Linked DNA regions of Homo sapiens: regions 1 and 2 are each linked to region 3. Evidence: fine-mapped expression QTL. A gene starts in region 3. Each other region holds a variant in brackets. All regions are shown on one strand. Distances are between the middles of the regions. Region 1 overlaps CRYGN (crystallin gamma N). Region 2 holds the start of CRYGN (crystallin gamma N). Region 3 holds the start of WDR86-AS1 (WDR86 antisense RNA 1).

What was found. PIP is the estimated chance that this variant, and not a neighbour inherited with it, causes the effect.
Region 1: its variant is fine-mapped to the expression of WDR86-AS1 in whole blood (TOPMed, PIP above 0.99).
Region 2: its variant is fine-mapped to the expression of WDR86-AS1 in whole blood (TOPMed, PIP above 0.99). The same link has a PIP of 0.9 or more in blood mononuclear cells.

Annotation. Positions count from the first base shown.
Region 1 is chr7:151,426,600-151,434,669 of GRCh38, reverse strand. It overlaps CRYGN (crystallin gamma N), which reads left to right. Exons shown (of 4, transcript NM_144727.3): 4 at 4,490-5,838. The coding sequence ends at 4,622. It overlaps LOC124901780, which reads left to right. Exons shown (of 1, transcript XM_047421163.1): 1 at 1-2,378. The coding sequence starts at 1,213. The coding sequence ends at 2,118. It overlaps MIR3907 (microRNA 3907), which reads left to right and starts at 1,031; the gene lies at 1,031-1,181. RefSeq lists enhancers at 1,392-1,481, 1,752-1,851, 4,273-4,472, 4,793-4,862, 5,640-6,159. The variant C/A (reference allele first, on the strand shown) is at 4,574.
Region 2 is chr7:151,438,101-151,446,170 of GRCh38, reverse strand. CRYGN (crystallin gamma N) reads left to right here and starts at 6,030. Exons shown (of 4, transcript NM_144727.3): 1 at 6,030-6,274; 2 at 7,927-8,070. The coding sequence starts at 6,254. RefSeq lists enhancers at 5,002-5,538, 6,250-6,750, 6,751-7,251, 7,613-8,070. The variant A/G (reference allele first, on the strand shown) is at 4,553.
Region 3 is chr7:151,405,625-151,413,694 of GRCh38, reverse strand. WDR86-AS1 (WDR86 antisense RNA 1) reads right to left here and starts at 4,534. Exons shown (of 6, transcript NR_109857.1): 1 at 4,313-4,534; 2 at 2,383-2,467; 3 at 1,903-2,025; 4 at 1,625-1,728; 5 at 843-976; 6 at 341-423. It overlaps WDR86 (WD repeat domain 86), which reads left to right and starts at 3,657. Exons shown (of 6, transcript NM_198285.3): 1 at 3,657-4,268. The coding sequence starts at 4,106. RefSeq lists an enhancer at 2,459-3,091.

The DNA of each region.
Region 1 (8,070 bases), 21 kb before region 3:
ATGCAAATACAGTGCCATTTTATATCAGGAACTTGAGCATCCTCGGATTTTGATATCCAAGGGAGGTCCTGGAACCAGTTCCCAGGGATAGGGAGGGACTGTGTACATCCCACCTTTCCCCGGTGGCCTGATGTTGGCCCCCTTCCTGCTGTTTCTGTCACTCTAGCTGGCTCCAGGATTCCGTTTTACGAAATTGCATTTTGCCCTAAATTGGTGGCACCTGGAGCCCAGGGGTGGCATTCCAAAACAAGAATTTGCCCTGGAAAACTTGCTGGCTAAATTGTGTCTTGTAAGGCCCAAGTCATGCCTTTGCGTGGAGGATGTCCTGAGGCCCTAGACACAATCCCCCCGGCCCACCCCCAACGCTCAGGGGCTTGTTGAGAACGAAGGTGGGGAAGGTGGAGGCTAACATTTCTCTGACTGAGGGGCACACAATCCCCACTGTCCCTGAGAGGAGCCAGCCATCGGGACCCCAGGTGGGGGACCCAGGAGCTCAGCCTTTGCCGCCTAAGACTCTTACTCTTACACAAATGTAAGCCCTTGTCAAGGAGGTAACGCCCCCAGGTCCCCTCGATCCGGAGGGGACACTGCTAGGAGGCCTTTCCTGGGGTCGGGGGAGTGGGCAAGGCAGGGTCCCTCCACCACCTCCCACTGCCAAGACTCCTTCCCTCTGGGTCCCACATCAGCCCAGGCATGACCCATCCCCTCAGACCCGTGTCCTGGTGGGCTCTCGGAGGGAAATGCACTGGCGTTCTGCCTCCACCTACCCTCACCTGGGGAAGGGCACGGTGCTGATGTGGGCAGGACAGGCCCCTGCCCTTTCCTCTGTCTGCCTCCTCCCAGTAGCCACAGCCAGGACAGGGGACAGCAGGATGGGTGGTTCCCCGCCCCCTCCTTTTGGGGGTGTCCATGTGAGAACCCTCATGTGGCCCAGGACATGGCTTGGGGCATTTCTTGCCCACCACAGGGTAGGAAAGGACCAGCTGACTCTCTGAGGTGCCTCTGAGGCCCCAGCTGTGGCACAGGTGTGGGGTTGGAAAGCTGTAGGTGTGGAGGGGCATGGATACGGGGGCCATGAGGGTGGGGTCCAGGCTGGACCAGGCCTGCCCTGAGTCCCCCAGCAGGTGCTCCAGGCTGGCTCACACCCTCTGCCTCTCTCTCTTCCTTCCTGGCCCCAACCCTTGAGGCAGCAGACTGTGCCAGGCACCAGGCATGACAAGCCTCACTCGTCTCAGAGATGGTGAGGGAAGGACAGGGTTGGGCCAGCCCCTGCTCCGAGCTGTCCTGAGGTGTCTTCCTTGGACCACATGCCCCTTTCCAGGCAAAGGCCACTATCCTGGACCTCCAGTCCCTTCCTCCTGGTCCCCCGTTCCCTCCCCACCGCACCTTCCTGCTTTTCTGGGCCGGGCCCACAGCTTCCTGGGTGATGAAGAGCTGTGTTCTCTCCTGCCCCCACCAGCCCGAGGTCCTCCAGGCTCTGTAAAGACTTGTCCTGACTGTTTCTGCTCTCTGGGTTGTTGGTGGCTGCCCCAGTGGTGTGCAGAAGGGGAGGAGGACAGGAAGGGGCCCTGCTTGGGACTCCCCAACCCTCCTCTGTGCCCTGCAGGCTCCTCCATGCAACTGCACCCCCACAGCCCATTTCCTCTGCAGGGGAGGCCCCGTGAGGGCAGGAGGGGGCAGGAACCGTGTTGTGTGACCATGGCACCTCTGGTACCTGACACAGTGTTGGGCACACATGTGGGAACCTGCTGGCATTCACTGAATGAACGGTGCCCTCTGTGCCAGGCCCCCCACCAGGTGCTGGGGGTACTGTCTGTGCAAGGTGGTCCTTATCAGGGAACAGGAGTGTGTGGGGCGTGCAGTGATGGCGGGAGTGCATCCTTGCCAAGGATGGCTGAAATGCAGTGGCGCAATCTCGGCTCACTGCAACCTCCGCCTCCCTGGTTCAAGCAATTATCTTGCCTCAGTCTCCCAAGTAGCTGGGATTACAGGTGCCCACCACCACACCCAGCTAATTTTTGTATTTTTAGTAGAGACGGGGTTTCACCACGTTGGCCGGGCTGCTCTCAAACTCCTGACTACAAGAGATCTGCCTGCCTCGGCCTCCCAAAATTCTGAGATTACAGGCGTGAGCCCCCATGCCCGGCCAGGACTGGTCAGTTTTAAAATGTGGACATTACTGGGCCTGTCCCCACACATGTCACACCCCAGCATGGACCCCACAGGGCACTGGGGAAGGCACCGTGGGTGCCTTCGTGTAGCCCAGAGTGAAGGGGCCGCTCGACCGGGAGGGGTTGCTGGGTGGCCAGGCTGTGCAGGCTTTTCTCTCCGGAGTCCCGGGGGACTTCCTGGCAGCCCCTGATCCCCACTCCCCTGGCCTCCAGGTGGGTCCTGTATGAGGAGCCCAACTACCACGGCCGCATGTACGTGGTGGAGAGTGGCGACTTCCGCAGCTTCTCGGACTGGGAGGCCCACAGCGCACGAGTGCAGTCGCTCCACAAGGTGGTCAACTTCTTCCAGCCGAGCCCTCCCACCGGGATGGCCGGGCGCAGCTCTGGGGACAGGGGCAACCCCTTGCGGTCCCACCCAGACCTCGGGACCTTGGGCGATAAAAGTCCTCAAAGCCAACGGGCGGCTTCTGAGTGCTCTCTCGGCAGTGGGCATCCCAGCCCTGGGAGGAGCTGGATGATCCAGGGCGCTTTCCCGGACTCCCAGGGACCCCCTGGGCCAGGGAGGGGAGAGTGGTGGGGAGAGGTGGTGAGAAGCAATGGGGATGGGGCAGGGCCGGAACCCAGGCCGGTTCAGGACTCCCCAGGCTCGCTTGGGGCTCTGCCTCTCTGTGACTCGGCAAGGTGAGGCTGCCAGGCCATGTGGCCAAAGGCCTGACCCAGGGTCTCTGTGTCTGATCTCTGGGTTTTATCCTCATGGCTAATCTTGGCCTCGGAGTTTCTAAGGGAGACCCCTCTGGAAGGATGGTTTCGACCCAGGGCAGACCCCTCTCCTGCGAGAGAGAAAACAGTTAGTGGTGGTGAGTGTCAGGGTGGGGGCTTAGCTTGAACAGGTGGGCTCTGTGGGAATGGAGGGGCTTTCGGGGAGAAAGGGGCATGGGGCGTGTCTGCTGCAGCCATAGCCCCTGGAGCAGTAGGGCTGGCAGACCCAGAACCGGCGGCTCGCGTCTTCAGCTGGTGCAGCACCAAGCGCTCGCCTGTAGAATTCCTCCATTCCTGGGCCCTCTCCAGGACACTGGGTCCTCCTGTTGGGGTGGGCTTGAATCTAGAGGGGACACCCCACCCTTGAGGGGCAGAGGGGAGGGAGAAGTCTGTCCTGGAAGGAGATACTCGGCCCAGGCAGTGGGATTCCTGGGCATAAGAGGTCCACGTCCCCAAAAGCATCCCCCCACTCCCTCCCCACCCACGCCTATGCTTCCAACTCACTGGGGAGAGAGGAAAGGTCCCACGAGGGGAACTCTGGTCCCTGGGGGTGGCCCAGGTAACTCCCTGCTGCCGGCAGCCCTCCAGCAGAGTCCTGAATGGAGCCTGCCTGTGAGGAAACCATAGCCCACCCCAGAAGGAGGCAACAGATGGAGTGCTCTGGGCTTCTGAGGAGAACACAGGGGCCCTGGACCCGAGATTCCTGAGCATGGGGGCTCCTGGACATGGAGACCCCAAAGATGTCCACATGGCCTGTGCCTGGACCAAGGCCTGGCTGGATGAGGGATCAGTGGGGGGCCAGGTGCATGGGTTGGATCACCCGTGTGCCCACAGAGTTCTGGCTGTGGATCTGACTCCTGGTCCAGCCTCTAATCCCCGACTGCGATCCCAGAGTCCCCCCAACCAACTGGCTCCCGACTGGCCTCTCAGTTCCCGGGTCCTCCTCACCATACATCTTACTCCAGTTTTCTGAGTAGATGGAGGGGTTTGGACTGGGGATCAGCCCCTCTAGGCTGGTCGCCCAGCTCAGGACTCCGAGGGAAAGCCCATGAGCCCTGGGTTACTATCTGAGTTGAACTGAGACACCCCGACAGGCCTAGGGGGTGATGGAGTACGGCAGGGAGCTCAGCGAGGGAACACAGGGTTCCCGAGAGAAAAACAAAATCTCAGGGGCTGATTCTGTCGCACAGTGTGGTGGCCTGAGTGTGGTGGGCCAGGGGATGGCTGTCCCGTTCCTGGGTGTCCTCCAACCTCTCCCCATCCCTCACTGAGAGAGCAATGGAAAAAGAGTCACGATGGGTCACCCAATTCACCCAAGACAATTCCCCACCAAGAGCTGGGTGGCAAAGACGGAGGGGCCCCATGACTGCTGTGGGACCCCCGTAGGCTGTCCCATGACAGCCGAGGCCAAATGAAGACATGAAACCACTAGGCAACCGTCCACTCCGCCCAGGAAAGGGGAAGGGGCTCCCTGCTGCCATGTGGTAGATGGGTCCCCAAAAGGCCTGCTCTGTACCCCTAATGCCCTGGCCCCACCTCCTTTCACCTGCAAACCACAGAGCATGGAGCCCTAGAAGCTTCGGAGCTGAGGACTTCCAGCTGAGCAGCTCTCTTCAATCAGATCAAGGACCGGAAGAGGCCAC[C/A]ACAAAACCAGCAACAACCCAGCCACCTTTCCTGACTGCAAACCTCTGAGCCTGGAACCGATTGACATGTAAATGCACCTGCACCGTTTCTGAGCCGGGAGAGTGTTTACTTAAAATCATGCCCTCAGTTTTCATTTCTCTGCCAGTTTGTTAGGGAGGTGGAGCCTTCTGTGTGTCATATCTGCCAGCGGGAGGCCCTCCCCACCCATGGCAAGGGCCCTGTCTCTTCTGAAACAGCCGTCCAACCCTCCACCCCACAGCCTCCTTGGGCCTTGGCACCCTGCTGGCCTCAGGCCTCCACAATCTCGCACCTCAGCCCACAGCTGATGATGGTGATGATGTTGATGAATATTTATGGAGCACTGACTTAATGCCAGGCTCTGTAGTAGCTGGAATCTGTGTAATTTTACTTATCATATACAATAATGCCAAGATGATATGCTTATCACCACTGTACAGTTGAGGAGAGCCAGCCACAGACAGGTTAAGCAACTTGCCCAGGGTCACACAGCAGTCAGGACTAAAACCCAGGTCTGGCTGGCTGATTGATCCTTTTCGTTCCTAACCACTCCTCTATAGAGCACCACACATTTGCATATTTAGATATATTTTTGTCATGAATTTGGCGCAAACCCAAAGCCTCTCCAGGCCTCAGACCCTGTTCTGTGAAATGAGTGCAATCATGTCTGCTGTACCAACTGTATACCCTTGTAAAAGCCAAAGGCGTGACCCATGAGCGGGTGCCATATGAGGGCTGGTTAGTAGTAGGTGACCCAGTAGGTGACGGGGTGGGGAAGCAGGCAGGGGAGTGGCATCACAGGAGAGAAGGTAACTTGGCTCCAAACTCCAACCTGATTCCCACTCCATCCCTCACTAGGATGTGACATTGGAGAAGCCACTGCTGTGTGTCTCAGTGTCTTCAGACGTACAGCAGTGGTAATCATTCCGCCCCCTCATAGGCAATTAATGCCTGGGGAATGAAATGAGAACTGCAGGCCCCACCGGTTCAGTCCAGGTCCTTGGGAGTCACGGGAAAAACCAGGCCTAGCAGCCCTTCCCATGAGTTCCAGAGGCTTCCCCTGAACTCTTCCTCTCCTCCCCAGCACCAAGGCTTAGCAGCATCTCATTAACTGGTGATTTAATGCTTCTCGAATGGGCTTTGTGCTCCTGGGTGACCTCCCCCTCACCCCAGCCCCCTGCTCCCTAATCTGTCAGCAAATCTGCTTTTTGTCTGAAAGAGGAAAAACAAGATTCCCACCAAAGTGCTTGTGGGCAGCTTGTAATTTATCTGAAGTCCGTCCAGGGGTCGATGGACCGAGGGTGAGAGGCCCTCAAGAGCCACACATGCTTCACATATTTCTACCTCCCTCTGTGGTTTGGAAAGCTGGGACTTTCACAGAGCCATCCCCTCATGTCCTCAGCCCTAGGTCCCCCTGCCCTGCTGGCCCCCCGTGCACTGTTTATCAGGCCCAGTCTGACCACAGGAAAAACATTCCCTTTGAATCCCCCCAGCCACCCCATCCCCCGCACCAAGAAGTTCCTCTCACCAGCCAAGGGCTGGTCCAAGAAGTCTCTGTTGGCCCCTTCCCCTTCCTGGGCCTCCCTCCCATGCCCCGAGGTGGCCTGCGCCTGGCAGGCTACCGCCTTCTTGGCTGGAGGCTTCTTGGCTCACCTCTTCACCCCACTGGGTGCCTTAAGAGCAGGGCTGTCCTGCCTGTGTTCCCCCCAGGAAGCCACAACAGATCTTCAATCAAAGCCTGTTGGATGAGTTTGAGCCCAGGGACGTCAAAAAAAAAAAAAAAAAAAGAAGAAAGAAAAAGACAAACTAACAAAAAACTTGTCAAATGAGACAGTTTTAAAGGTTTAGCTCCAGAGTTTCAGTTTGTGAAGATGACAGACTTCTGGAGACAGACAGATGGTGCTGACGGCCGCACGACTATGTGTGTGTACTTAATGCCACTCAACCACACACTTCAAATGGTTAGGATGATAAATTGTATGTGTATTTTGCCATAATCAAAAAAAATTAACTCCTTGTTGCTGAGGTGCTCAGGACTGTTGGGGGCAATGTGGGAATGAAGGCCCTCGCTGGATCCCAGGGAACCCTGTGGGTCTCCTGTGCGACCATGCCCCACATTCCCTACCTGAAGAAGCTATCACCTGCTTATTGATTGCGTGGGTCCCATCGGCTTGGCAGGGCTCTTGGCTGTGGCTGCTGGGGAGGCTGAGATGCAGGAGGAGGAAGAGGAGGAGGAGGAGAAGGTCCTTGTCCTTCAGCAGGGATCCCTGGAGCGTCCCTGTGGTTACCTGGGACTAACCCTGCCTTCCGGACCCCCAGGACTTAGTAGCCCAGGTCTGGGGACACCAGGAAGGGGTGACTTGGGCAGCCTGCCCTGAACAGCGAGCATTTGTGTGAACAGGCTCCTGGCTTCCTTGCCTGTGGACAGCCCGCTTTGGAATTGTGATTTAAAAGGATCCTGTGGAACCCAGCTGGCGTGGGCTGTGCATGGAGGGGTGGAAGCCCTGGACCCAGCCTTGCTGGGGCTGGGGGATGGACTGGGCAGGTCAGTGCTGGTAACGCTAGTCCTGGTCCATGCCTGCCCTGGGACCCCCAGGACTGCCCTCCCTGGGTAGGGGCAGGGGCAGGGGCAGAGGATACGGCTGGGCTGAGGGTGCGCATTCTCATCCCGAAGAGGGCTCAGCGATGTGTAGGATTGCTCTGGCTAGGGGGCTGAGCAGGTTATAAGGACCCTCTCCACGAACCCTGCCTGGCCCCCAACACCAAGAGCGGGAGTTCTCACCAGTTGGGCTGGATCGTTCCGCGGGCTGAGATGGTCGTGCCCTGGGTTCCATTCCCGTAAAGTGTTCATTTCTAGGTGCCAGGCACAGGGAGCAGGGCGGCATGTCCCCCGCACAGTGTGCCCAGCCTAAGCACCAGCCCTGGCATTCCTAAACTGCACAGACAGACATGCGGGCAGTAGAAATGGGCGCTCCCACCCAGTGGGGCTGCTGGGTAGAAGTCCCTTCATGGGGCTGGTGATGGCCGAGGTGGTGTCACCTCTACACACAGAGGGGACGCTCAAGTGTTGCTTTATCCTTGGAGGCACTGGGCCCAAGGCCAGGGGAGGAGCCCATTGTGATAAAAACGCAGATACAAAAAGTAGGGGAAGAAATCTTTGCGGCAGAGGGGACTTAGAAAAATGTTGTAGAAAAAAGCGAGGCATCCATAATATTCTCCCCGCCACAAGTCCTGTGCTGTCTGCTAGAGAGGAACTGCTAATTGGGCCAAAGCAAGCAGGGAAACAGGATCAGCTCCATCATTCGCTCAGTCCCAAAGATGAAAGGAAGCTAGTTTTCCGGAAGAAGCCCAGCAATTCCTGGGACCGAGGCCAGAGAGAAGTTTCTTCCACGGGTCCGCTGGCCCCATGCCGATGACTCACAAGCTGCACCCTCAACGTTAGCCCTCCTGCGGGGAAATTAACAGGTTTCCTAGGATT
Region 2 (8,070 bases), 32 kb before region 3:
AAACCTAGCTGGGTGTGGGCGTGTGCCTTTAGTCCCAGCTACAAGGGAGGCTGAAGCAGGAGGATGCCTTAGCCCAGTTGTTTGGGGCTGCATTGAGCTATGATCGTGGCACTGCACTCTGGCCTGGGTGACAGAGTGAAACTCTGTCTCTAAAACAAAGAAACACTTGCACACACACAGGCACACACACATAATCAATAAGGAAAGACAGAAAAAAATGAGCAAAGCATATGAACAAGCAATTTACAAAAGATCCAATTCAAATGAACGCTATACATTTGAACTGATGTTGAGCAACTGGCCTTGGAACTACCAAGGGTAGATCTCATCTGTATGTCAGTGGGGCAATTTGGAAGACCTCTGTGGCATCTAGTGGCTTGAAGGTGAACTCATGCTTCAACCCAGCAATTTCACCCAGAGGCATGGGCCTCAAAGGAGGCAGTATTGGTCCCAGGGTGTGGTTGGAATTTTGTAGGGTGTTTCTGTTTGTCAGAATGCTGGAGGATGGGTGGGCAGGCCCCAGGATGCTGGATATCCCACCACATCCAAGGAGACACTGTCCCACAATTTCCCCTAGAAACGCATAGTATTTTTTGTGTGGCTTTAATATATACTGAAGATTTCCTGGTATGCAATTTATTAGATATATAAATGGAAGATTTTACTTAGTTTTCTGAGGAATTCTACTGAGCTTTGTTCATTCACCATTTCAGAAACTCTTGTCACTAAAACAAAAAACCAAATTGCAGAAGGCTACATATAATGTAGCCACACTAAAAATTTTCTATTATTTACAGATACATACAAAGAAAGTAAAAAGATGAAAACACACAAAGACATAACACAAAAATCAGGACAGTATCTTATCCTTATGGGGAAGGAAGCCTTCAATTCTATGTATAATGATTTCTTATTTTAAGGAAAAACATTGATCCGACATAAACCTGGCAAAATGCTAAGATTTGACAAACTTTGTATGGTGGTGTTATTGTTCCTTATATTATTTCCTATTCTTCTCTGTGCTCTAAATTACCCAAAAACGGGAGAGACAAGAGGCAGAGAAGGGAGGCAGGCAAACGGGTGATGGCTCAGGGTGATTTATTATTAAAACCATTAGCCTCCACGCTGTAAAACTCTCCAATGCTGAGCAGCTACTGGTAGTTCTAAGGCTACATGTTATTGAGATTTTATTTTTTAAGCCATGATAGCATTCTTAGCCTTGCTTCTTCTGTGCTGTCACGATATTTATTCTCAGTCCATTTCCTTAGAATTTTGTCCCCAACTAGCAGCTGTATAGTGACTCAAGATCTCACCTACCTCAAGGTACATTTTAACAGTGCTCTACCAAAGATGACTCAAAAAAATGACTCTGATGTTGAGGTTTGGTGATACTGGCATTTGCATATTATGTAGCTATTTTGGGGAGGGGTTCTACCTGGCCACAAATAGATAATATGAATCTTAGCAGACTCCTCCTCTGGTAACTGAATTATAATAAAATCCCAGGTGGGAATTGAGATATTGCATTAGAAATAGGGAATGGAGGTGAAATTTGCAGGTATCTTATTCATCTACCCATTTTTAATAATTCTTTGCGTGGGGCTTTCAGCTAGGCATTTTTTCATATATATTTCTCAGAAAACACCCCAAATCACTGCTTCTGTTTTGGATTCTGTTGTCATCACCTTTTTGGGTTGTCTGTGTGCTCTGGCCCTGCTGTGATGAGGGCAAATACAAATTAAAAAGAAGAAGTTCAGCTGGGCACAGTGGCTCACACCTGTAATCCCAGCACTTTGGGAGGCCAAGGCAGGCGGATCACTTGAGGTCAGGCATTCAAGACCAGCCTGGCCAACGTGGTGAAGCCCCATCTCTACTAAAAATACAAAAATTGGCCAGGCGCGGTGGCTCACGCCTGTAATCCTAGCACTTTGGGAGGCCAAGGCAGGCGGATTGCCTGAGCTCAGGAGTTTGATATCAGCCTGGGCAACATGGTGAAACCCCATCTCTACTAAAATACAAAAAACTAGCCAGGCTTGGCGGCGTGTGCCTGTAGTCCCAGCTACTCGGGAGGCTGAAGCAGGAGAATCGCTTGAACCCAGGAGGTGGATGTTGCAGTGAGTTGAGATCACGCCACTGCACTCCAGCCTGGGCAACAGAACAAGACTCCATCTCCAAAAAAAAAAAAAAAAAAAAAAAAAAATTAGCTGGGCGTGGTGGCACACACCTGTAGTCCCAGCTACTGGGGAGGCTGAGGCAGGAGAATTGCTTGAACCTAGGAGGCAGAGATTGCAGTGAGCTGAGATCGCATCACTGCACTCCTGCCTGGGGGACAGAGCAAGACTCCATCTCAAAAAAAAAAAAAAAAAAAAGCTCTTAAAACAACAATGAGACACCACTGCACACTTATTTGAATGGCTAAAATCCAAAACTTGATAGCACCAAATGGTCAGAATGAAAAATCATATAGCCACTTTGAAAGAGAGTTTGACAGTTTCTTTTTATTTGATTTGATTTTGAATTTTTTAGAGACAGGGTCTTGCTATGTTGTCCAAGCTGGTCTTGAACTCCCGGCCTCAAGTAATCCTCCTGCCTTAGCCTCCTGAGTAGCTGGGATTACAGGTACAAGCCTCTGCACCTGGCTTTTATTTTTTTTTCAGTTTGTTGCACAACTAAACATACCTGTAACATATGATCCAGCAATCCCACTCCTTAGTGTATAGTGAAAGGAGCACACAAAAATCTACACGTGGTTGTTTATAGAAGCTTTCCTCATAATTGCCAAAACTTGGACACAACCAAAATGTCCTTCCATTGATGAATAGATAACTAAACTGTGGTACTTCCAGACAAGGGAACATGATTCAGCAGTAAAAAGAAATGAGAGACTAGGCCAGGAAAAGATATGAGGGAATCTTAAATGCATATTACTAAGTGGAAGAAACCAATCTGAGAAAGCTACTTGCTGTCTTAGTCCGTTTTGTGCCGCTATAACAGAATACCACAGACTGGGTAATTTACAATGAACACAAATGTACTGGCTCACAGTTCTGGAGGCTGAGAAGTCTAACATCACGGTGCTGGCATCTTTCAAGGGCCTTCTTGCTGTATCATCCCATGGGAGAAGGGCAAAGAGAGGGTGAGAGAGAGCAAGCGGTTGACCTTGTAGCCCTTTATGGTCAGCGTTAATCCATGAATGAGGGTGAAGCCCTCATGACCTAAACCCTTCCCATGAGACCGCATCTTTCAACATTGTTGCATTGGGGATTAAGTTTCCAACACATGTGTTTTGGGGGACACGTTCAAACCGTAGTAGCTACATACTGTAAGATTCCAAATACATGACATCCTGAAAAAGGCAAAACCGTGAAGATAGTAAAAAGATCAGTGGTTGCCAGGAGTTAAGGGGGAGAGAGGGATAAACAGATGGAGCCCAGGGGACTTTTTTTTTTATCTTTTTTTTTTTTTTTTTGAGACGGAGTTTAACTCTGTCGTCCAGGCTGGAGTGCAGTGGCGCAATCTTGGCTCACTACAACCTCCACCTTCCAGGTTCAAGCAATTCTCACTGCCTCAGCCTCCTGAGTAGCTAGGATTACAGGCGCCTGCCACCACGCCTGGCTAGTTTTTGTATTTTTAGTAGAGACAGGGTTTCGCCCTGTTGGCCAGGCTGGTCTCAAACTCCTGACCTTAGGTGATCCACCCGCCCCGGCCTCCCAAAGTGCTGGGATTACAGGTGTGAGCCGCCGTGCCCAGCCCACACAGGGGACTTTTAAGGTGGTGAGAATACTCTACCTGGTGCTCTAATGGTGGAACCATGGCATTACACTGTAGAGGCAGCAAAGTTCTACCTCCATCCTCTTAGGGTCCTGGCTGGGCCTGAGAAATAAATTGACCTAAGACAGATTAACAAGAGAAAAGCATACAAACTTATTTAATACAAGTTTTATGTGGCATGGGAGCCCTTATAAGGAGATGAAGACCCAAAGAAAAAGTTAAGAGTCAAACACTTACATACTCAACTGGACAAAGAGTAGCAAGCTGTGAAAAATCAACCACATTATGTGGGGAGGCTTTAAAAATGTGTTATTTTAACAAAGTCTACGCCGCATTCTCTCAACTTCTCATCCTGTATCCCGATGTATAACATAGGTTCATCGGCTGTGACAAATGTACCACTCTAATGGGGGCGCTGATTGTGGAGGAGGCTCTGTGTGTGTGTGTGTGTGTGTGTGTGTGTGTGTGTGTGTGTGTGTAGGGGCAGGGGGTATACAGGAAATTGCTGTACCTTTTGCTGAATTCAACTTGAACCTAAAGCTGCTCTAAAAAATAAAACCTTTTTTTAAGGCTTATTTTTCCCTGTTGAAAATAAGGGAAGAGGCTTCCCTTTCCTCCCTTTTCTTGCAGAATTTCCTTCTCTGTCATTTTCAAATGTGTGTAAATCTTTTTAATGGCTAAACAAGCCTCTTGCCAGTCTAACAACTCAGTCATGTTTCCTCTGGGAGCCTCTTTGAGTCTTGACATCAAGGAGTAAGTGCCCCCACCCTCCCCGTTTCCT[A/G]AGAAGCCTGACTTCAGCTGTCACCTGACTCCAAATTGCAAAACCCACCTCCAGTCATAGAGATACAAGAAAATCAGCAATTTTATCCTGAAAACATGAATGCAGTGGGTTGTGTCTGCTTGGCTACAGAAGAGTGAGATCTCTCTCCATCTTTGCGATCTCTTAGGGGAGAGATCGTGATGCAGATCGCATTCCAGTTTAAAGTTTATTCAATAATAAAATTGTTTTTTTTTCCTTCTACCTTCGTGGAGAAGTTTTCTGGGTTGGCTGGAGATTTTGTTTTTAATTTTATGTCCCCACCAGGGCCCAGGTCCAGAGAGAAACATTGGAATGTGTGGCTTGGCAAGTAAGGGCGCCAGTGGAGGCAGCTGGGCGGCGTCCCTAGGGAGGGGCGTCCCTAGGGAGGACCGTCCCTGGGTTCAAGGGTGACATGCAGGTTCTGGTTTGTACCCTGTCTACTTTTGAAAACCTCCCACAGCAGAGGCAAGGTCACCCCTCTGCCCCAAGAATCACATAACCTCCTCTTCCTGGGCCTCAGTGTCTCATCTGTGAAATGGTCATAAAAATATACTGTTTGAAGGAAGAGCAGCCCAAACTCCTCCCCAAAGCTCCTCCCTCCCCTCCAGCAGAAGCCCCTGTGGAGCACCTGCCCCTCTCTCCTTTGATCTCAGAGCCTGTCCCCCACCACCCCAGCCATCTGAGTCATGAGTCCTGTGTTCCCAGCTCATCTCCCCAGCCGTGTGGGGGCTGCACATCCTGTGGGCTCCATGTTCGCTCTGCTCACTCCACAATCTCTGAGCCTCTGCTGTCTGCCAAGTGCTCGTTCTGGGCCCTGGGGAACTCTCCCTCCGCGGTGGGGCTGCTTTGTGCTGTAAACTGATCCTGGGCGTCCAGGGTGGCTTAGTTGGTGCAGCAGAGAGGCAAGGGGCAGAGCACTGTACCCCCAGCTCAGGGCAGCGCGGGTCACCTGGTCACCCTAGGCAGGATCTTCAAGGAGAGAGGGACCCAGGGAGGGAGAGTGCCAGGGAGGGAGGCAGGCAGGAAGAGAGCGGGAGGAGGGAGGCCTGACCTGGCCTGGCGTTTTGTGGGGTGTGGGGGGGTGCATCAGGAGCTGGGTGAGTTGGAGCCGGAGGTCTAAGGTGGGGACCTGGGAGCTCAGACCAGAGCAGCCAGGGGAGGGGCGGTCAAGGGCTGTCTGTCTGTCCGGGGAAGCTTGGGTTGCATCCTCGTGGAGACAAACAAGTTGGCACCAAGGCGAGACTACCTGCAGCCAGGTGAGAAAGGGGAGTGGGCTGGGGAGCTCGGAACAGGCCTTGGGAGGGAGGGAGATGGGCGTGAGGGCTGAGGGGCAGCGCAGGGGAAGAAAGGTTGGAGGGCTAGAGAGACACCTCCCCTCCTCCCCCCACCACTCCAGGGCAGGGCAGGGGCAGCCGCGGGCTGGGCGGGAGGGCTCAGGGAGGAAGGAGGCTCGGGAGCTAAACGCGGAGAGCACAGGGAGACCCCGGGCAGGGCGGGCTGCACTCGCGGTGGCACAGGGTGGCCGCGGCGGGTCCCAACCGCCTGGTGGCCCCTCGGGCTTAGCACGCCCGACAGCACTAACGCTCCGGGGCCGGCCCAGCAAATCTTTTGTCCGGGGCGGCGCTGAGCCAGCAGGGCGCTGCCCGGTGTAAACGGGGACCCGCGGAAGGGGCGGGGCGCACCATGGCGCAGCGCTCGGGGAAGGTGAGTGCGTCCCTCAACCCCAAGGAAACCGAGTGGGGCTCCGCCTTCGCCCCCTGTGCTAGGGGATGCAGGAGGGTGCACACTGTTGATGGTGACAAATCCAAGGGAAGCTGGTTTAATTTCTTAATAAAATGGGGTGGCCTCGCTACTGGCCTGGGGCCTCTCTGGTGTGGATGGATAGGAAGGTCTCCATCTCCACTCCTTCCTTCTGGGATTCCAACCCCTCGCCCTGCAGTCAGGAGCAGGGAGGGTGTTCAGACTCCCTGGGGCTTCCTTGGGGTGGGGGAGGCTTGGCTTGTCCCACAGCCCTCCGCCCCACTGCTGCGGCTTCTTTGCCCAAGGCTGGCCTCTATGGCTTTTCCTTCCCAGGGTCTCTTCAGGGACACTTAGGGCTGGTTCTCTGAAAAATGTTGAGATTTGAGGGAGCCCCGAATCCCTTTGGTGCCCAGACCTCCCTGAAGGTTTCAGGGGCCCTCTACCAGCCGTGCCTGGTGCAGGAAGGACGGGAGACCTGGCTCTCCCTCGCCCTCTCCAGTGCCCCTAGCCTAGCCACTCCCATGAAGCCTTTGGTCTCCAAGGCCACATTCCAGAGTGTCTGGGGGTGACTGTGTTGCTGTATCAGTCTGCATGGGCCAGGTGATGCTTCAGTAACAAAGGGCCCCAGTAACTCTGGGGTGCAGAACGCCAAGGTGTCTGCCTCCTTTCCGGTGAACGCATGTGGCCACGCCTGACTCCAAGGGGCCTGGAAGGGCAATTCTCGTGTTCTTTTGAGCGAACTGGAGACACTGGTGAGGCACAAGCGACCATAGTGATGGGGAACATCACTGCACTCTGGCAGGACCCTTCTAGGGCCACAGTTCTTGAAACCCAAAGAGTTACTAAATGGTTGAGATTTTAGGTTCCACAGCAGGAAATGAGTCTGGCGGGTTGTTATTGCTTCACTTTGTTTTGTTTCGGGACAAGGACAACCTGTGAGTGCCACGTAGCTATAAGACACGATGTCTGAACTCCCAGCAGGGTGATGGAGCTCCAGATCTGATACATGCCTGCTACCCAAAGGAGTGACCTACAAAACACAGAGAGACAGGGTGGCACTTATAAGCCCTCTTTTGCGAACATTAATCCCGAGCCAGGCCCTGACGCGGCTTCGGCCCATTCAGCCTCTCCAGTGAAGGAGGCCCAATCCCAGGAACCCGAATTTCTGCAAAATATATGCTGGGTTACCATGAGAGGGTTGTGGGTGAAATTTCTTCTTTTGAAAACACCTCCTTTAATGTTATTATCGGCTTTATGTTTTAATAATTAAAAAATGAGTTAAAAATGCAGTGGAAGTTGAAAACAGCCCATTTTGAAATGGGCACCTAGACAAAGGGGAAACCCCTGTCCCCAAATCGCTGCTGAAATTTGTCTGCCCCACTGTGAGCTCCTAAGGGTGGGGAGGAACAGTAGCTGTGTATGGCATCAGCCTGCCAGCTGTTCGTTCTTTTGCCCAATTGGCAAATAGTGTTGGGCACCTACTGTGTGCAGCAGGTCTGGGCTTTTGGGGGCCTGGGAGTAGGGGTTCCATCCAGGGTGTTGGGACCCAGACGCCAGCCTCCAACGCTGACGGAGAGAAGCCCCTGACCCTGAGCTCTGTAACCTGCCCTTTCTAGATCACTCTCTATGAAGGCAAGCACTTCACAGGGCAGAAGCTGGAGGTCTTCGGGGACTGTGACAACTTCCAGGACCGGGGCTTTATGAACCGAGTGAACTCCATCCACGTGGAGAGCGGAGCCTGGGTCTGCTTCAATCACCCC
Region 3 (8,070 bases):
TTTTCCATAGAGCCTCTTGTATGGTTTTAAAACTTATAGTGCTTATAAGATAGTACAAATATAGATACAAAGAATAATCTAATGAAACCACATGTACCCACTACTAAGATTTCACATAATCATTTGACTTCAGACTTTCAGTGACTGAGTTTTTAGGTGTGGGCAGGTATTTCTGCAACTGGGTTTTGCAGGTTCTCTGCGAGGTTCATCTTTGGCTCCCTAATATTTAAGTCGACACTCCTTCTGCTCCCAGAAGAGACTCCCTCCTCCTCTTGTTCTTCGGGCCTCTCACTCTGTCTGTTGCCTGCTGTCTCCGGTATCACCAACTTCTCTCTCCAAGTTCTTTCTTAGCAATATTTAAAGCTGATCTCTGTCTTTAAAAAGTTGAGTTCTTCCACACTGTGCCCTCCTCTGGCTGCCTTCCTGCAACCAGCATCTATGTCATTAGTGGTACAGATGCTCCTTGAGTGATTAACGATGTCATGTTCTGATAAACCCATTGCAAGTTGAGAATATTCTAAGTCAAAAATGCATTTAATATGCCTAACTTGTGGAACATCATTGCTTAGCCCAGCTTTCCCTTAAATGTGCTCAGAGCACTGGCATCAGCCTTACATTTGGGCAGAATCATCTTACACAAAGCCTATTTTAAAGTAAAGTGTTGAATATCTCATGTAATTTATTGAATACTGCACCAAAAGTGAAAAACTGATTGTATTGGCACTTGAAGTACAATTTCTACTGAATGTCATCACTTTCATACCATCATAAAGTTGAACAATGCTAAGTTGGGACTATCTGTACAATTACCCTCAAATATATCTTCGATCATACACTCTCACCCCCGGGGTGAAAAACCTTCAGGGCTTCCCGTTTTCTCTCGACTGCCTTGGGCCTGGGGTAGCAAGGTCTTCTCCCGGGAGCACCGTGCTTGTGAGAGTCTGCAGGTGGCTGCAGGACTGGGAAGGCTTCCGTCCTGTTGAAAAATACTAGCACTTAGCACAGTACCTGACACACAGTAAGTACCCAAACTATGAAGATGATGACCACAGGCACCCTCACCACCAGCATTGCAGGTTGTGCCAGAAGGGAAAAAGCAATTCTGACAAAGCTCTGGCTATGACGTTCCCTGTGGGCGCCCCTCAAGGTGCCTCCCTCTGTCACCACCTACACACACACACACACACACAACTCAGGAATATCCAGCTTTCACCATGCTTCTCAGAGAGGCCCCAGAGGGTCACTCTTTCCAGCAGGGTAAATTGTGGCAGTCCCTGTGGCACGGGGAATGAGCACTCCCTGGCACAAAATGCACCCGCCCCCCAACCCTTCACTTGTTAAACACTGCCCATTTCTTGCTTCTTAAAGCTTAACCATTTCCTCCTACACCCTACCAGGTTCCCTTCCCAAGGTGCCTTCCATTTATAAAGTGATTAGGTCCAGGAGGGCCTGGGCACCACGGGACTCCAGGCCCTCTTGGAGGCTCCAGAAGAGTTAAAGGTGTGAAAGGGGAAGGGAGCCCAGGTTCTGCTGGGGACCCAGCCTGACTCCTGGGTCTCTATAGCTTTGCTATCTTAAGGTGGAGGTTGGGGGAGACCCCAGTTTCAGGGGAATTAGGGGAGACCTCAGTTCCAGGGGAATTCGGTGCTGTTTTCCAATCTACCCAGCTTCTTGTACTCCTGTTAGATCTGGGGGCAATTTCCCAGAGGAGAGTCTGTAATCTACGACCTGCAAGAGAAAAGGGAAGACAGGCTGGCTGAGGACATCTGCACCCACAGCTCTACAGTCCAGACTCAACCCCCAGAGATGGCTGGCTCATCCCCACCAGGGGGCCACTTTGTGCCAAACCGGAGAAGGAGGGGTGGGGGAGGTGGAGAAGCCAAGAACAAAAAATCTATCAACCTGGAAAGAGGAAGTAGGTAAGGTCAGCGGTGTGTGGACTGCAGGCTCCCAAGATGATGGCGCTGGCGCTTCTGAACGCTCTGCCTGCTGGGAGCTGAGCATGGGGCTGATGGCTTGTGTTGGCTGCAGAGGAGAGGAACCAGAGTGCATGGGTGCCACCTTGCTCAGGAATCCTGGGTGACCTCCTTGAAAGTTAAGCTTTTCTCCTGGTGGTTCTTTCCTCTGGCCCACGACCAGGCAAGCTCGCCCAACCTACGATCTGTCCCCAGCTCCCAAACTGCTTTCAAACCCCTCCCCTCTTAGTTTCCAAAAGAGTCGATGCCTGGTTCTCCTTGGCCCCTCTGCCCAGAAAGTTTGGGTTTCCTCTGGCACTTCTCCGGATAAACCCTCCCAGCCTCCATGGTCCTCACATTCACCTTCCCCAAGGGCTGCAGCCGCAGGGCCTGCCCAAGATCCCCACTATACCGAGTCTGTCCTCACCTGGAGGCCACACCGCAGTTTCACACCTGGATGTGCAATGGGCCCCCTGAGGTTCACCGGTTCCTAAGAGGAACTGGTGATCAGCCTGTAGGGGACAAAACAGTCTACCCAGCCTCTCAGCACAAGACAGGCTCCCCGGCCTCTCCCGCCTCGCAGGCATCCAAATGCTGAAGCCTCCACCTCCTGAAAACGTCTCTCCTTTCGGCCTCCCTCTCTCCGGCTGGATGACCCCAAATCTCGTCCTAACGCTCCTCCACTGCCCCTCTCTCCACCACCTGCTAAGGAAGGGCCACGCTCCTTAAGCTGAGGCGCCAGCTGCTTTACAAGTTTTGAGGGAAAAGAACGGATTTCTCTGGTTAGGCCACTCTGGGTATAAACGACCCAACGGCCTGGGACACCCCACGATGGGGTTTTCTTTTGGAGTCTGGATAGAGCAGAGCGTGCAGTACTGGTCGTCCCATTGCGGGCTAGCTCGCCAAAGACGCCCCTTCCTTGCCCTTCTCCCTAGGCTCCTGAGAGAGCCCTGGAGCGTTCTGGAAATCCTGCTACCTTTAGGACCTGGGGGATCCGAGTAGGGGGGTCACCTTCCCCGTCCCCAGCGAAGTCGGCGCCGGAACTGCCCTAATGGAAACCAGCCGCCGGGCGCTCCGGGAGGGCTCAGGCCGACCCCGGGGTCCATTAGAGGCGCCCCAGGCCGAGGGAGCCCGCGGCGGCTGGAAGGTGAACTTGACATCCCGGCTCCACCGACCCCGCAGCGGCTCGCACCTCATCCCCACTCCGGCCAGACCAAAGTAGAATCCTGGGTGTGCGCGTGATTTCCCAGGGAGGGCGGACTCGGGGCTTTCCCTGTCGCACCCTCCATTGGGGGACCGCCCCCAAGTCCCCGAGAGCCCCTCGGGCAGAGTCCTTAGGGCTCAGAGCATGGGAGGACCTGGCTTGCCTGGTGGAGGCGAGTAGCCGAGGGGTCGGTGGAGCTGCGCCCCAAATGAGTTCCCGGCGCGCGATTCTCCCCGACCCCGACCCTTTGTCCGCCTCCCCCTCCCTCGTCCCGGCCCTTGGCTCAGGGGACCCAGGCGGCGGCGGCGGAGGTGGCAGAGGCCAGAGCCCAGAGGCGCAGCCCGGGCAGCTAGGAGGGTCGCACGTGGAGCCGTCCCCCGGACCCGCACAGCGACGAAGGGGGGAGGCTGCAGGCGCGCGGGGTGGGGGCTGGGGCGCAGCCCGAGAAGTGGGAGGGGATCGGGTGAGGGGTGGTCTCTGAGGAGGAGCCAGGCTGGACCGTATTGTTCCGCGCTCGGCCGGGGAGGGCGCGGGGCGCTCGGCTTCCCGTGTTCCTCTCCCCGCCCCAGCCCCGTGGGCGCGAGAGGAGGCGGGGGGCTCCTTGTGCACCAGAGACGCAGCTGCCTTGTTCGCCCGGTGGGGTGTGGATCCTCCGAGCGGTGCTGGGAAGGGGGTTCTCTCTGCCCGCGCGCCCAGGACTCTACCCAGGGCGGAGGTCCCGAGTGGGCCGCCCCCCGCAGCGCCCTGGGTTCGCGGGCCCAGAGGCTGGAGGCAGCGGGGAGCTAGGGTCCTTCACCCTCCCCTCGCCGCGTGCCTCCGCAGGAGTCGGGCTCCCCGTTCCCCGCGATGGCCGCGGGCCGCAGTCGTACGGAGCCGCCGCGCGGACCCCGGGGCGCCCCTCCCTAGCGGGGCGCAGCTCCTTCTTGTTCCCCGCCCTGCCAGCGGGATGGGGGGCGGCGGGTCGGCCCTGAGGGTCTGCGCCGACCACCGCGGGGGCATCAACTGGCTGAGCCTGAGCCCCGACGGGCAGCGCCTGCTGACGGGCAGCGAGGACGGCACGGCCCGGCTCTGGAGCACCGCGGACGGCCAGTGCTGCGCGCTCCTGCAAGGTAGACCCTCCCACTCCCTCCCTGACCTCTTCGCCGCAGCTCACCGGCCCCAGACCGCGGACCCCAGCTCCTGCGCCCGCAGACCCCTTTCTAGAAGTCCAGCCCCCGCTCATCCCGGCACACTAGCGGAAGAGCGCTTGTCTGGGCCCAGCATCTGGCTGTTGAGCGCACGGCAGGGCAGGGTGAGGTCTGGGGGTGGGGTGCGGGTGCAGAGCAGGGTGCGGCCGGGATCGGGTGGGTGGGTCGAGGGGCGTCCGCTACAAAGGCGAAGATCATTTGTCAACCAGCGGCAGGAAATCTCCCTTGACAACAATGTTAACAAACAAAAAGTTGCACCTATACTCCTTCTAAGCAAACCTTCCCTTGTCTCTAGGTGCCTTGTGGCCTCTTTGTGGCCAATTGTGCTCTTCTGCTGGCATTTCCTGTTGACGACTCTCACAGCAACAGTAGACGCTTGTTAAGGGCCAGCGGTGCGGAGAAGTGTGCCGTCGTCACACTATGTTACCCCACATACAGACGTGGAAACAGGCTGGGAGTTAAGTAATTCGCCCAGGTCGCACAGCCAGTGAGGGGTAGATGGCAGTCTGAGCCCTCTCATTGCTGTAAACCCTGCCTGCATGCCTGTTGGTTTCTATTTGTGCCCTGTACTCACTCAGGAGGTCAGTGTGCCTCGGGTGCACCTTCCCCTGGGCCTGTCCCATGCACTGTGAGGTCCCTTTCAGCTCTGGCCCTCCTACTGCCCAGGTAGCACACGTAGTCCCCTGGATGAGCCGCGAGGCTTTCTGCTGTGGGTAGTTCTTTATCACCGCGGGCTTTTCCACCATCATCAGTGAACTCTCTGTGGCCTCGCCCAGGCCTTCCAACTTAGGTAGGATATTAGCCCCAATATTGGCTAATCCTGATACTGCTGGTTTTAAATAAGAACAGTTGACCAGGCTCGGTGGCTCACACTTGTAATCCCAACACTTTGGGAGGCCAAGGTGGGTGGATCACCAGAGGTCAGGAGTTTGAGACCAGCCTGGCCAACATGATGAAACCCTGTGTCTAATAAAAATACAAAAAATTAGCTGGGCGTGGTGGCGGGCGCCTGTAATTCCAACTACTCGGGAGGCTGAGGCAGGAGAATCACTTGAACCCAGGAGGCAGAGGTTGCAGTGAGCCAAGATCGTGCCACTGCACTCCAGCCTGGGTGACAGAGCCAGACTCTGTCTAAAAAAAAAAAAAAAAGAAAAGAAAAGAAAAAAATATTACATAGTTAGGGCAGATATTTCAAACCCAACAGGGATGACTTTTGGATTACCGGTTACTTGGGAGTTGGTGTGGATAATGGAGAGGTGGCCACAAACTAACACACATCCCCCCCAAACAGCCACACACACTTATAGGCATTCAACCAGGAATGGAAAATATGAGGTCTTTTAGAAATGTTAAGTCCAGTTGGTATTGCTCCCAAACATAAGACTGTCTTGGGGGTAGAGGGGTGGGTGGTGTTTCAGAAATGCAGATCCCCAGGCCTGGGCTCCAGTGATGCAGTCCTCCATGAATAGGGCTGTAGAACTGGCATTTCTTCTTGTTGTTGTTTTTTGAGATGGAGTTTCGCTCTTGTTGCCCAGGCTGGAGTGCAGTGGCACGATCTTGGCTCACTGCAACCTCCGCCTCCCGGGTTCAAGCGATTCTCCTGCCTTGGCCTCCTGAATAGCTGGGATTACAGGTGCTCGCCACCACGCCCAGCTAATTTTTTTGTATTTTTATTAGACGTGGGGCTTCATCATGTTGGCCAGGCTGGTCTTGAACTCCCGACCTCAGGTGATCCACCCGCCTTGGCCTCCCGAAGTGCTGAGATTACAAGTGTGAGCCACTGCACCCGGCCTAGAATTGGCATTTCTAACAAGCTTTTGGGTGGGTCTTATGCACAGCTGGCCCCGGGAGCCCCTGGGCTGGGGACGGGTTGTGGGAGCCCAGCTTAGCCCACAATTAGGTGGGGTTTCTCCCCAGTGAGGCCCCAGGCTTTGCCAGGCTGCCGGTAGCCTGGTGGGCACTTGGCTTTGCCCCCACGGCAGCTCTGGAGCCTCACCAAGCCTCCAGGGCCCACCCTCCTGCCCAGCTCTGTGTCTGGCACCTGTGCCTCCTTCCTTCACACCCACTTTGGTGACCCTCACGGCTGCTTGTCCCCTTGAGGTACTGACACTCACTTCCCAGGGAGGGTGCCCAACCTTCTGCCCTAATTGAGGGCAGGGCTATCCCCGCTCAAGCAGGACACTGGAATGAAAGAACTGTGGCCCATTTTGCTAGGATTGTTTTTGCTGTTATATGGGTTGGTATTTTCAGGAATTTTCAAGGACGGGGACAGAGGTCATCTTTCTTTATCCTGAGATTCTACTGATACGCTCAACTTGCAAAAGAGTCATTGTGAGTGTGTGACAGTCCTTTTGTGTGGATCCCCAAAGAAAGCAAGGTGTTGCCAGTTCCTTTCTCCTGCAGGATTTTTTTTTTCTATCAGTGAAATATTATTAAAATGTCTTAACATTTGTTTAGTGCCCTATATTTTATAAATAACACATCTTTGTGCTTTTTTATTGTGTAATGAATCCTCACAACTCTGAGGTGGGTGGGATTGACACCAGTTCACAGAGGAGAGTGGGGAGGTGCAGACTCATGAGCAGCATACACGGCATTCTTGTTGTTTTCTAGATACCATCGATAATGGGGTGGGTGCTGTCGCCAACATCCCTCGAGGCGTGGTGCGGTGGCAGGACTTGTCCAGGGTCCCGCAGCTGGTCCATGGCAGAGAGGGTTTCTGAAGACTGTACGGTGCTTCTCTTACCACTGTGGGGGAAGTTGTGTCCAGACCACATGGCTGGTCTGTGGTGGCCCCATCCCTAGAAGCATCCTAACTCTAAATCTAGATCTCTTTCCACTTTGGTTCCGTCCTGGCCCTTGCACAGCTCTGGGCCCACAAGAGCCTGTGGTTGGCCGGTCCTGGATTTCTCGAGCAGAGTGGCTGGGGCTGGCGACTCCTACGTACGCTTTTCCTCTAGAGACCTCTGGCTCTGTTCATGGCAGCAGGGGCAATCAGGGACCGCAGGCTTTCCTGGGTGTCTCGCAGAGCTTAGGAAAGTTTGGGCCAAAGGGTGAGAGGGAGAGGAAGAGTGAAGGCCGTTCCCTGTGGCGTGCGGGGTTGGTGGGTGAGGTGCTGCTCCCGGAGGCCCCAGGGAGAGTGGGCTGCAGAACCGGCGTGTGGGGAGCCCCTCCCTGTGGGTGCATTCACTTGTTCATACACGGAATTGCCTTTCAAATGCGGTTGGTGAGCTCACAGTGAAAAAGGCTTCATTGCAATTACTCTGCAAAGAGAAGAATTACTTGCCACTTGCTTATCCCTGACCTCCTCTTTTTCAGGTTTATTCATTGAATATCTCCTTATTTGGGGGCACTTTATTGGTTCAATGAGATGAGTGACATTTTCCAAAATGGTAGTACCTATCCTATCCTGTTCCTGTTGAGTAGGGGACTCAGCCTGAAGGTGGCAGCCCACTGTGGCTGTCCCACACGCTTCCTCGTCTTCTAACATGAGGGGGCGGGGATTGTTGTTAATTTCCTGGGTACAACCCCACATTCCCATTTGCTGGGAGCCGGTGGCATAGGAGACTCCCTGTGAAGCCTGGCGGGAGAGCAGTGGCCCAGAAGACTGGGCTGAAGGAGGCCTGCGGCACGCTGGTGACAAGAGCCACAGCAGCCTCACACAGCTTGGGGGCAACTGACCGCTCCCACCGGAGAAGTCCAGAAAGCCAAGCTGCGTAGGTCT